Homo sapiens: one gene and its partner. The protein of the gene in region 1 purifies or fractionates together with the protein of each later gene. This does not show direct contact. Each region holds a gene or a part of one and is shown in the gene's direction. Other genes may lie near its edges.

What was found. The genes of interacting proteins can lie anywhere in the genome.
Region 2: the proteins of SCFD1 (region 1) and SCFD2 purify together in Homo sapiens (affinity purification with mass spectrometry; 2 studies listed by BioGRID and IntAct, with this or other methods). This does not show direct contact.

Annotation. Positions count from the first base shown.
Region 1 is NC_000014.9:30,632,309-30,639,340, forward strand, and holds part of SCFD1 (sec1 family domain-containing protein 1), read left to right. Parts: intron 1-1,638; coding exon 1,639-1,729; intron 1,730-5,816; coding exon 5,817-5,939; intron 5,940-7,032. UniProt on the Homo sapiens protein: Plays a role in SNARE-pin assembly and Golgi-to-ER retrograde transport via its interaction with COG4. Involved in vesicular transport between the endoplasmic reticulum and the Golgi.
Region 2 is NC_000004.12:53,272,049-53,279,080, reverse strand, and holds part of SCFD2 (sec1 family domain-containing protein 2), read left to right. Parts: intron 1-5,079; coding exon 5,080-5,255; intron 5,256-7,032. UniProt on the Homo sapiens protein: May be involved in protein transport.

The DNA of each region.
Region 1 (7,032 bases):
AATGAGCATTTGTTAATAGACTGTTATAGTTTGTCAATTCCAAATGTCCTTTTTTACATTTCTGAAATTAGGATCTATCTTATCACTGATGATATGTCATAACTGGCAGCATTTTTATTTCTCAGTAGTATATAAAATATATTTTAAAAATTATGTTTTAAAATTGTTACCACCTTGGGTTTCATGAAATACGGTATTTGATGAGTTTTCCTTTCATTTTTATGTCAGACTGAAATAAGCAGGTTTGCTTTGATAATGTGTTAATTTTTATGGACTGAAGTAAAGTTTAACTTCATGCTATCCTTGGAAATTGTGGTTTATTAATAAACATTGAGTGCCATTGTCTCTGTACTAAGTGTTTAACTCCTTTATTTACTAATGGAAGGACTGAAGTTTAGAAGGCTTAAGTGATTGTCTCACATTTGTACAACCAGTTAATAACAGAGCCATGGCCACATTGCTTGACCACTAATTCTGTGCTGTTTATCTACTGAACTGTAATGGCTCAGTAACAGTAACTAACAGAAGTGAGGCCTTACTCAGTACTTCATTCAGGGGTAATAGGATAGTCTACCAGTTTGAGAGTCTCGTAATCTCTGCCTAACTTGCTACTTGCCACCAGAGCATGGAAATATTACACAGCTACCATGGTGAACTCTTGTGTACTTTGCCTCCAACCATTCTCCTCTATTTGCTGGAGAATACTGTATCAGTTACTTTATACCCTGCAAGCTGGTTTAGGCTAATTTGTAGGAAACAGTAATTACAAGTTTCCACAGTATGAAATGGTGGTTGTAGCCCATTAGACAGTTGGACAAGCAGTGTGAAAAAGACCACAACCTATGGCAGCCATCACATTATCATTCTTGATATCAGTGGCAACAGTTATTAAACACAGACTCACTGGCAGCATGTGCCTCTTTCCTCTCTCTCCTTGATTATAGAAGGATGACTAGAGAGAGGTGAATATTCCTCATATAAGCATGGTTTGATGTTGGGATATTTGTATGGAAATTGTTCCTAAATTGTAAAAGGAGAAAACTGTAAAATGACTTAATCTATAAGATGCTTACATTCTCTTATGAAACAATAAATAGACAAAAATAGATTGTCTTTAATTTTTAAGGAAACATTTATATACCTTTCATTTAAAAAATATATTTGATTTCATGTTTGGTTAAATTTTTTTATAGCTTCTAAAGAATTGCTTCTAAAATTTTTTTCATTGCGTCCCCTAGCTTTCTGATTTTCCCCTCAGAGAGCCACACTTTCCTCACATTCACCCTTCCCCTCTGACCACCACATTTCTATGAAAAGTGGGAATAAGATTGATTCTGAATATGTTTTAGTTCTCATTCAAGGAGAGTGTTGGTAGAAAAGAATGTCTGACCATAAGCAGTGCTAAAAGTGTGAGCAGAATAGAACAAATGAAGACTAACAAGAAATTAGGGTCTTACTAATGCTAATAAATAATAACAACACTGACATGGGAGAAAGATAGGTTAACTCACTGATTAATTGCAACAAGAGCTTTTAGAGCACTGGTTACTGTCCTTGAGCTAGTGAACTCCCATTTTGAGGAATATTGTTTTAAATAAGTGAATAAAAAAATAAGTTTTAGTTCCTTATGTCTTCTAGGCTTTTACACTCTGATCGAGATCCTATTCCAGATGTTCCTGCAGTATACTTTGTAATGCCAACTGAAGAAAATATTGACAGAATGTGCCAGGTAATATGGGTTCTTATTTTCTGGACTCCTGAATTTGGAAATGGATTTTTTTTTCAAGAAAAATTCCTAGATGTCCAGGGTGAAAAATCAGAAATTCCTATGCCTACTTTCTCACTCTGATTTTTGAGACTATCTTTGAATTCCAAATAGCCTGAAAGACTTAAAACTTTTGGCTGAAGAAGTATTATACAGTAGTCCTCTCATGTCCACAGTTTCACTTTCCACAGTTTCAGTTATCCACAGTTAACCAGGTACTGAATATATTACAGTATTTTGAGAGACCACATTCATATAACTTTCATTACAGAATATATTTTCTGTAATATATTTCATTACAGAATATATTTTATAATTGCTCTATTTTATTTCTAGCTATTGTTGCTAATCATTTACCGTGCCCAATTTATAAATTATAAATTAAGTTTTATCATAAATATGTATGTATAGGAAAAAACATATACGGTTCAGTACTACCTGGTTTCAGGCATCCACTGGAGTCTTGGAAAATAACCCCTGCAAATAAGGGCAACCACTGTACTGGTAAAGTCTGAGTCTGGCTTTAACAAACAGAAAGCCTAGGTATATTGCCTTTCTAACTTATATAGGGTTTTCCTTTTCTAAAATAAGGGTGAGATTAGGAAGTCCACACTGGTGCAGAAGTACTATAAGGTAATCAAAGACCCAGGCTCCTTCTGTCGCTGATCATTCGTCTTTAGTTTGTTGGTTTTCCTTGTCTTGCTTGTCGCTGCGCCTGTAGGCATCAAATCTATGTTCACATCAACAAGAAGAGGGACATGGACTGTGCCAGCCCTGACTGTTGATTTTGATCAGGAATTTAAGCCTTTCCAGAAACTCCCAGAAGACCTTTATTTATTTCTCACTAGGTAGAATCAGTTACAAGGGTGGCTGCAAAAGTCAATATTTAGATGAGTCACCCCAAAGAAAATCTAGCAAGATTCTTTTAGCAAGGAAAAGGAGAAAAGTAGATATTGGATAGGTAAGTAACAGTGTCTTCCACAAGTCACAACATCTTTGTTATTGACTGTTGAATCAAATTGCTATTTAAATTGTTAGTGACGTTTGCAAATTTTGTGTCCTGTGTAGCTTTATGATGCCCAGCTTTCTCTTTTACCCTGCGTAAACTCAAGTATGCTATTCATGAAAGAGGTACCACTTGCAATCTCTTCTTCTTTCATTATTTAAATAACACCTTTATTGAAATTATAATTTACATACCATACAATTCACACATTTAAGGAGCACAAGTGTATGGTTCATTGGTTTTTAATATAGTCACAGAGTTTTGCAACCATCACCACAGTCAATTTTAGAACATTGTCATTACCTCAAAAAGAAACCTGGTACCATTTATCACATCCTCAACCCTCCCCCATCCTCTTCCATCCCTAAGCTACCTTCTGTTTCTGTATATTTGCCTACTCTGACCATTACATATGAATGAAATCCTATAATATGTGGTCTTTTGTATATGGCTGATTTCTCTTAGCATAATGTTTCCAAGGTTCATCCATATTGTAGCATGAATTGGTACCTTATTCCTTTTCGTGGCTGAATATATTCCATTGTATGGATGTACGAAATTTTATTCATCCTTTTACCACTTGATGGACATTTGGATTGTTTCTACCTTTTGGCTATTAATAATGTTGCCATAAATATTCATGTGCAGGTTTCTCTGTGGACATGTTTTCAATTCTCTTGTGGCCGTAAACACATAGGAATAAAATTGCATGGTCAAATGATAACTCTATGTTTACCTTTTTAGTAATAGACTGTTTTGCGAAGTGTGGTTGCACCATTTTATATTCCCACCAGTAGTGTGTGAGGGTTCTGATTTCTCCAGATCCTTGCTGAACACTTACTATCCGATATTTTTATTGTAGCCATCCTAATAGGTTTGAAGTGGCATCTCATTATAGTTTTGATTTGCATTTCTGTAATTAATGATATTAAGCATCTTTTAACATGCTTATTGGCCATTTGTATGTCTTTCTAGAAATATCTATTCAGATCATTCACCCAGTTTTTAATTGGGTTGTCTTTTTATTGTTGAGTTGATAGAATTCTTTTTCTGTTTTGGATACTAGACACTCACAAGTTTATGATTTGTAAATATTTTCTCCCAGTCTATGGGTTATCTTTTCATTCTCTGGATAATGTCCTTTGAAGCACAAACATTTTTGATTTTGATGAAGCCCAGTTTATCGGTTTTTTTTTTTCTTGAGTTGCTTATGCTTTTGGTGTCATATTTAGGAAACCATTCCAGATTCTTGTGTTTTCTTCTAAGAATTTTATAGTTTTGGCTCTTACCTGTAGGTCTTGATTCCCCTTTGCATTATTTTTATATATGGTGGGATGTAGGTGTCCAACTTTATTCTTTTGCATGTGGCTATCCAGTTGTCCCAGCGTAATTTATTAAAGAGACTATTCTTTCCCTAGTGAATGGTCTTGGCAGCCTTGTCAAAAATCAGCTGACCACAGATATCTTGTTTGATTTCTGAACTCTCAGTTCTATTGCATTGATATCTATGTCTTTCCTTATGCCTGTACCACACAGTGTTGATATCTCTTGCTTGATAGCAAGTTTTGAAATTGAGAAATTGTGTCCTCCAACTTTGTACTTTTTTTCAGACTGTTTTGGCTTTTCTTGAATTTCCAAATTACGATTAGCTTGTCATAAGTTTTGTGCTTCTTTTGTTAAATTTATTCTTTCATGTGTTTAATGCTTATTATGAATGGAATTCTTAATTCCATTTTTAGGATTCTTCATTGCAATTGTATAAAAATTCAATTGATTTTTATGTATTTATCTTGTATCCTGCAACCTTGCTGAACTTATATGTCCTTTTGAAATGTATGCATCATTCTTTGACCACTTCCTTACTTTCTGGCACAATAAGATGTTCCAATATAGCCTAGGATTTTACTTTCTCTGTCTCAGCCCAGGATTCAGACATTTTTCTGAGGAGCTCTGGTTGCTTTCTGTAAAGAATGGTATTTAGGAATCAGGATCTAGGCATTAGGTATATTCATTGTGACTAGAGTGTCACTGTTCTTAGGTCCTCTCAATGGAAAAAGTTAGGAAATTATGTATTTATACATACACTTTTATATCTGTATTTATTTCTACAATTCTCCCTCTCTTCCCCTCACCTATCCAGATAAACAGATAACCTCCAAAACTGTTTCAGCTCAGCAACACAGGATTCACTCTAGCGTTTCCCTTTTCTCTTTACAAATTTGTAACTCCTTTCTCAGAGTGAAAAACATGGTTCCCAGTATCGTGAACATATTACTTATTTCTCAATCCTCATACATAAATAATTTCTTGACCTTGATTGAACCACTACCCTGATCACCTTCCTCACAAAGGCTCCAACCCCTCAATGTTTCACATTTTAACATCGCTAAAATCAGGTGCATCTTAAAATTGATCATGCCACAAAATTTTATTGGCATCATTAATTCTTAGTGTTACATAAAATGATGGTTCTTGTTACAGTCAATGACATCTTAGATTTAAGGAAGTATGGTTATTTCGATATCTATTTGCTAAAAGTATAAGAAGATAAGTAAATTTGACTTAAGAATTTGCATAACTTAAATTGCACTACTTTTGAGCAGTTGAAAAGAAATACCTCTAGAATTGGTAATTGGATTTATAACTTGTCTGTGTGCAATGAAGGATTTGTTGTGTCATCACATGTCCAGAACAGTTGAAGATCGTGTCTGCCAAATATAACAAGCATTTTACTATATTAGTGGACCATATCTGGATATTTTAAGAAGAATGCAGATAGGCTGTATGAAAGCAGTTTGTACTGTATTGTAATTAATGAGATTTTGTTGATAATATAATTTTATTACTTTATTAAGAAACATTTTAGTTACATCTGATAACCAGATAACCAGTACTACTTCAAAGGTTTTTTCTCTTGGGATACTTTTTTTGATTGTCATTTAAATATCCTGTCTTTTAAATATAACTTTGCCTTATAGTAGTTGAAACATATGTATTCATGGTCTTCTTTATCCTATAAGAATAAAGTTTTCATTGTATTGATAGGATCTTCGAAATCAACTATATGAATCATATTATTTAAATTTTATTTCTGCTATTTCAAGAAGTAAACTGGAAGATATTGCAAATGCAGCGTTAGCAGCTAGTGCAGTAACACAAGTAGCCAAGGTAAGAGAGTTTGGTGGGTTGATGACATTTTGTCAATGTAAAATTTAACACTGTTCTGAAACCCGTAGTTGGCATAGATATCTATTTGACAGATGACCAGAACAACAGAATTGTTTAGGCTCAATACTTTTATAAAGAGTTCTGATAATATAAATTATATTCAAGTTGAACTAGGCAAAATAAGCCAAACTAAAGGAACCTATTATTTAATGAATTTGAAAGACAGAAATAAAAAGCAGAATGAGTTTTGCTTTAGTCTGTGATTTGTATAATATTTTTAGGTCAACTCAGAAATCATTTGACAGTTGTATTGTCATAAACTGTATTGAAAGTATGTTGACATTGTTTTATCTGTAATCATTATAATCATCATACTATTTCCAGATATTTTTTTTACTTAGGAAAGAGGATCCAAAGTGCCCGTGTTGCATATTGAGATCCAAAGTGCCTCTGTTGCATATTAAGAGAAAAAGAACCCATGACAGGCCTGCAATTCTACATCATAGTGACTTTTTAGTCAGGTTCAGCTTCAGTTATAAATCAATTTGTAAAATATATTTCAGGTTATAATCCTGTAATGCTCTGTGTTTCTTGAATTTGGACAAGATATGCATTAAAGTTCCAGACAACTATCTAGGACAAATAAAAGACTAAACAACCATGCATATACTTTCTATTCTTTTTCTACTGATAGATTTTTCATTGTTAGAGTTAAATAGACCACTAATATTTCTGATTAGTTTTTGAGGCTTATGCCTTTAATCTTTGTGCTCAAAATTTATTAACTTCACATAAAATAATGGGAACAACTTTTGTTTTCCTTCTTGTTTTGTTTTGAGACAGTGTCTCGCTCGCCCAGGCTGGAATGCAGTGGTGCAATCACTGCTTGCTGCAATCTTCAGCTCCTGGGCTCGTACCACCCCACCCAGCTAATTTTTTTAATATGTTGCCCAGGTCTCAAACTTCTGGCCTCAAACAGTCCTCCCACCTCAGCCTCCCAAAGCTCTGGGATTACAGGTGCAAGCCACCTCACTCAGCCTTAATTTGGTTAACTAAATTCAGTGTATTTCAAATAGTTCTCTTAATTTTTCTC
Region 2 (7,032 bases), on another chromosome or scaffold:
TTCTGTCCATTACTTTTTCAACACTTGTCTAGTTGCTTGCTGTTTTAGTTTATATAAACTAAGAAATTTTACTTCAGTGGTTAGTCTTACTGCAGCATTTTTGATGGTCAATTAGTTGATTTCCATTTGCTTTTGGTAAGGTTATGGTTAAATTTAAAAATTTTAAAAATGTCACTGGCCTTTTTTTTTTTTTTTTAGAGCATCTGTGTGAATTACTTTTTAACTTAAATTCCAGTTAGCCTCTTAGGGATTTTTAGGAAAAAAAAATCTGCTGTCGTGATTTATACCTAACGAAGGAGTAGTGTCATGAGTGTGTAAAAAACGACATACAAAGGGGAATAGAACAGAGTAGAGAAGGTGAATAACTACTAAATCTGCAAGGAACACAAGGTAGTGTGGTGTTGATATTTTCTGTTAGGAGATATACCCATTTGTTCCTTTAGATCATATGCCTTATATGAGAAGGTGACGTTACATAAATATGGTAGCTGAGTCTGGGTCTCAGCTAGGAAATGCTGATTGGATAAAAAATTTGACTTTTTTTTTTTTTTTGAGATGGAGTCTCACTCTGTCGCCCAGGCTGGAGTGCAGTGGCACGATCTTGGCCACTTCCCAGGTTCAAGTGATTCTCCTGCCTCAGCTGCCTGAGTAGCTGGGACTATAGGTGAGCACTACCATGCCCAGCTAATTTTTCTCTTTCTTTTTTCTTTTTTTTTTTTTTTAAGATGGAGTCTCTCTCTGCCTCCCAGGCTGGAATGCAGTGGTGCAATCTCGGCTTACTCCACCTCCCGGGTTCAAGTGATTCTCCTGCCTCAGCTCCTGAGTAGCTGGAACTACAGGTGCCCACCACCACTCCCGGCTAATATTTGAATTTTTAGTAGAGACAGGGTTTCACCTTGTTGGTCAGGCTGGTCTCCAACCCTGGACCTCGAGTGATCCACCCACCTCGGCCTCCAAAAGTGCTGGGATTACAGGCGTGAGCCACTGCGCCTGGCGAGGACTGTTTTTTTTTTTTTTGTTTTTTGTTTTGAGACGGAGTCTCGTTCTGTCCCTGGGCTAGAGTGCAGTGGCCGGATCTCCGCTTACTGCAAGCTCCGCCTCCCGGGTTCACGCCATTCTCCTGCCTCAGCCTCCCGAGTAGCTGGGACTACAGGCGCCCACCACCAAGCCCAACTAATTTTTTTGCATTTTTAGTAGGGACGGGGTTTCACCGTGTTAGCCAGGATGGTCTCCATCTCCTGACCTCGTGATCTGCCCGCCTCGGCCTCCCAAAGAGCTGCGATTACAGGCGTGAGCCACCGCGCCGAGCCTGGACTGTTTTTTAATCAAAGACACTTTTATCTTTAAAATGAACATACGGTTATTACAATAGAAATCTGAGCAGATCCTCTGATGGCTTCCTCTGGTGATTCCCGTTTCCTGGAGTCTCTCTAAAACATAGTTATAGAAGAAATGAATTGTATATATTTTGAATCTATTTAATTCCTCTTCTTTCAGTTGAGGAGATGGGGTTGGAGAGGTAGGCAGTTTTCATATCATGTAGAGCCTTTCACACCTTCAAGACATTTTGTATTTTTCTTTGGCAGTACTTACCACTATCATGATTAAGTAATTATTTGTATGATCATTAAATGAATGTTTGTCTTGATAGACTAAGTTCTATGTGTTTAGGAGCCACACTGCCATCACCTGCAGTACAGTGTTTATATAAATAAATGGAGCTCATGGCAATCTTAAGTTTTGAAACCATTTTGTGTGAAAATTTGTTCTTACATATTTAATATAATAGATGTCAGAGAATATCATTTCTTAAAAATGTTAATCATTTGCACAAAAGGTCCCTATCCCTTTAGAGAGAATGACACGTAAGAGGCTGAATTAATTAGGAGATCATCAAGGAGTTGTTTTCTTTATTTGTTGGCTACAAGCATAGGGGTTTTTGTCTGGATTTGTTCACAGGTTTATTCCTAGAAACAGGAATAGTGCCTGTTACAGAAATATATGTTGAATCAATGAATCAATAAAAGTGAATGACACTCACAACTCAGTAATAAGAAAACAAACAACCTAATTAAAAAATGAGCAAAAGATTTGACCAGACACTTCACCAAAACAGATATAGGATGGCAAAAGACACACATGAAAAGGTGGTTAACATCATTAGTCATTAGGAAAATGAAATTTTAAACCACAATGAGATACTGCTACACATCTGTTAGAATCATTAAAATAAAAATAGCTGACAAAACCAAGTGTTGGTGAAGTTGTAAGGCAACTAAAACTCTCATATGTTGCTGGTGGTACAGCCCACTTTGGAAATCAGTTTGCCAATTTCTTATAAAATTAAACATGTGCTTAAACTAAATACTGCATGTTCTCACTTATAAGTGGGAGCTAAATGATGGGAACACATGGACACTAAGAGGGGAACAGCTGATATTGGAGCTTACTTGAGGGTGGAGGGTGGGAGGAAGGAGAGGATCAGAAAAAATAACTATTGGGTACTAGGCATAGTACCTCGGTGACAAAACATTCTGTACCACAAATCCCCATGACACGAGTTTACCTATATAACAAACCAGTACATGTACCTCTGAACCTAAAATAAAAATTAAAAAAAAATAACTAAATGAAACTATAAATGTATATGTGGGTCAGTACCAAGAAGTTTTTTTCACAAACCCCTAAGTATCTGATTTCCACTCAAGTCTTTTAAACTTGTTTGATGTTGCTGAGTAGCAGAGGTCTTTTATTTTCCACTTTTTAACGTACCTAAAAAGCATGAACCCTGCATTTCAATGGACTGTATTGTACGCTTTTTTGCTATAAAACTTTTTCATCAAACACAATTACATTGTTCAATTTTGTTGTAAACTTAACATAAGATGCACTGTTGATATGCTTTCTGATATGTTTGATAAGAGTGATAAAATAAAGCTTAAGAATTAAAAAAAAATTAAAAGTAAGCATATACTTAACATCTGTCCTAGAAACCTGCTCCTAGAAATTTGCCTAAAGGAAAATGAAACATATGTATACACACACACACACACACACACACAAAGACCTGTACACAGATGTTTGTGAAGGCTTTATTCATAATTTCTAAAAAATTGAAAGCAACCCAAATACTCATTAACTAGTGAATAGATAAATAAATGGCTAAATAAACTATGATACATCCACACAATGAAATATCACTCAGCAAGAAAAAAGAGCAAACTACTAATACAAGCAGCAACGTGGATGAATCTCAGATACATTATGGTTCAGTGAAAGAAGCCAGACTCAAATGGCTACATACTATGTGATTCCATTTATGTGACACTCTAGAAAGACAAAACTGTGAGATGGAAATCAGATAAACACGGATAAGGGTTCATCAACCAACAGGGCTGGAACTAGGGAAAGTGAATGGACTACCAAGAAGGGGAGCTGTTTGGAATGATGGGAATGTTCTGTATTTTGACTGTGACAGTGGTTATCCAACCATATCCATTTGTCAAAATTCATAGAACTGTACACTAGAAAAGGCTGAATTTTACTGTATGTAGAAAATACCTTAATAAACCTGATAAAGAAACAAAGTATTAATGAGGTTTTTTTCTATGAGTACTTGAGCAAGCAGATTGTTAGCTTGCTGCTTTGAGAATCAGGAACAAACCCATGCTTTACCAAGGGACCAAAGAAACTCATGAGACTCACCCTCCTACTTATTCCCACTGTTCTTTTTCTTTAAATGCTTACCCTGATAAACTGGTAATGAAGAACTTAAACATTCTTTATCTCTTCAAAAAAATTAATGAAAAGATAGAAAGATATGTTGTAGGCTTTTGAGTTTCATGTGGCAAGGTCTTTACTTTTAGCAAAAACCATTTATTAAGTGATATCTGCCATTTAGCACTGGGTAAGACATTACTTTCTTAGCACGTCAGGCAGGACTAATAGATGCAGCACAAGCCTCGTTTTCTACCTCAAGGAGTTGCCATGAGAATCAGTAAAGGGTGTGTTTGTGTAAGCACTGTGTAAATTGCTAAATAAATGCAGGTGGTTTCATTGCCAAATACTTAACAAGCAAATAACTTGGATTTCAGTTTATAACAAGTTTATAACAAGCAAATAAACTTGGATTTCAGTATCAAAGAACAACCCACAAACATGGCATGGGTGAAACATATAGGAATGAATTACTTGGCTTACATCTATGTTTGGCCCCATTGCCTTTTTGCCTGGTGGGGAGAATCCGATGTCCAAGAGCTTTGCGCATAGCATGGAGGAATGGCAGGAATGAAATTTTACAGACTGGAGAGTGGGAGGAGACTCGGTGGAAAGACAGCTATTGGCAAAACTTGGAGTTAGGGGCTCTGAAGGAGTGAATCCTCAACAGTTTGTGTGTTTGTAGATGTACAAGTGTTTGTATAGTCTCTATGCTTTTATGAGGTAGGCTCTCTTGTTCTAAATGTAGGTGACCATTGTAGCAAATGTGCTGTTCCCCACACCAACCCTTTCTTCTGATACCTCCTCTTCCAGTGGTTTTGCACTGTAGTTCTTGATACATTTTTGTTCCATGTAACTGCTTTTATCTCACGAATATTGTCATGAACTCACTGATATCAATGGTAAAGTTTTAGATGAGAAATAATCTATTTCTCATCTTCTTTTAGGTACATACACACACAATTAGAAATCTTATCTTTTTCCCTCTTAGATTGCTATGTCATATGTCATAAAGAGGTACTCCAAGTTGAGCTCAACAAATATTTATTTGTGTGACTTTATTTGAAAATTTATTTACAGAGTATTACATAATGATAAAATGAATTCTACTGGCAACATGACCTTGGCCAGATCCCTTAATTAGCATCCCTGTTTCCTTACTTGCAAAATGCAGGTATTAATAATAGGACCAGTTTTGCTCTTGTCACTATATAGTTGTAAGAATCACAATAGCTTAGGAAAGCTTGCAGTCAGCTCTGAAGTTCTGCCCAAATACAAGACAGTGGTATTATTAATGGAATCCTTCTCATTATTTGTACTATTCCCAGAAGGGGGTACACTGATAAATTCTTATGTTTCCAGGGAGAGTCACACCGGGACAGCTCATGTCCTATATTCAGCTCTTCAAGAACAACCTCAAAGCTCTAATGAATCATTGTGGCCTCCTCCAGCTTGGACTGGCCACAGCTCAAACGTTGAAACACCCACAGACTGCCAAGTGGGACAACTTTCTGGCTTTTGAAAGGCTCCTTCTTCAGGTATGTTGCTATGGGAACCTCGTGGGATCTTAATAATTAATGTTTTGACTTCCAGAGAAAAACCTTGACATTTATTATAGCCTTAGTAATAAATCATATTGTTGACATGTGCCCTGCTTCATATTCTCTAAGTGCCCCCTAGTTAAAATTCAAGTAGAAACTTTTTTCACACCTGTTTAAAAAAAAATTTTGACAGTAACATCTTTGGCTTCTCATTTAATACCAAGGATGTTTTTTGAGCATTGGACTAACCTCTGGACACCTCTTTCAATTTTATGCCATTTGGACCTTTCTTGCTCTTCATGGCATCTTTATTTGATCCTTGCTACTTTTTCTGTAACATATTATCGCTATTTACATTTCTTCTGACATTACCTAGTTTCTAGTCCTTAAGCAACATATAGCATGTGTCTTAAAATGGCGTTTAGTAAAAAATGAAGGAAGTGATCTCCATTTGTAGTGTTTATACAGATATTTGTATGTGGGATAGGAACTTTTCATGACTGATGAAATATTTTCATGGGAAACTTTTAAAAAAATATGTAGTATGTGTTTTTTAAAATTATGAAGTATTTTTAAAAATTATACAGTACTTTAAAAAGGACAGAGGATTGTGAAGCATAAATGTACATAAAATGGCAAGTATCTGTAAACTTTCCACATAGACTCAATATGATTTATCATTATTTTCATATTTATCATGGATCCTTTTTCATTAAAGAAATAAAACTAGAGATAAAGTTGAAGCATTTTTGATACTATATAACCATCTCTAATCTGATTTTCCTTTTTCTTTCCCTAGAGATAATTACAAGCTCAATTCACTGTTTTTATATTTTTATTAGATGTTTGCTTTCTCATAAATAATATAGAGCATTTATGCTATGGGTTTTAATTTTACATAAGTGATATTATACTATAAATATCCCTAAATAGCTTGCTTTTTTCTCTCAAGGTTCTATTTTTTTTTAATTATACTTTAAGTTTTAGGGTACATGTGCACAACGTGCAGGTTAGTTACATATGTATACATGTGCCACGTTGATGTGCTGCACCCATTAACTCACGTCATTTAACATTAGGTATATCTCCTAATGCTATCCCTCTCCCCTTCCCCCCACCCCACAACAGGCCCCGGTATGTGATGTTCCCCTTCCTGTGTCCATGTATTCTCATTTTTCAATTCCCACCTATGAGTGAGAACATGCGGTGTTTGGTTTTTTGTCCTTGCGATAGTTTGCTGAGAATGATGGTTTCCAGCTTCATCCATGTCCTTACAAAGGACATGAGCTCATCCTTTTTTATGGCTGCATAGTGTTCCATGGTGTGTATGTGCCACATTTTCTTAATCCAGTCTATCATTGTTGGACATTTGGGTTGGTTCCAAGTCTTTGCTATTGTGAATAGTGCTGCAATAAACATACGTGTGCATGTGTCTTTATAGCGGCATGATTTCTAATCCTTTGGGTATATACCCAGTAATGGGATGGCTGGGTCAAATGGTATTTCTAGTTCTAGATCCCTGAGGAATTGCCACACCAACTTCCACAATGGTTGCACTAGTTTACAGTGCCAACAGTGTAAAAGTGTTCCTATTTCTCCACATCCTTTCCAGCACCTGTTGTTTCCTGACTTTTTAATGATCGCCATTCTAACTGGTGTGAGATGGTATCTCATTGTGGTTTTGATTTGCATTTCTCCGATGGCCAGTGATGATGACCATTTTTTCATGTGTCTTATGGCTGCATAAATGTCTTCTTTTGAGAAGTGTCTGTTC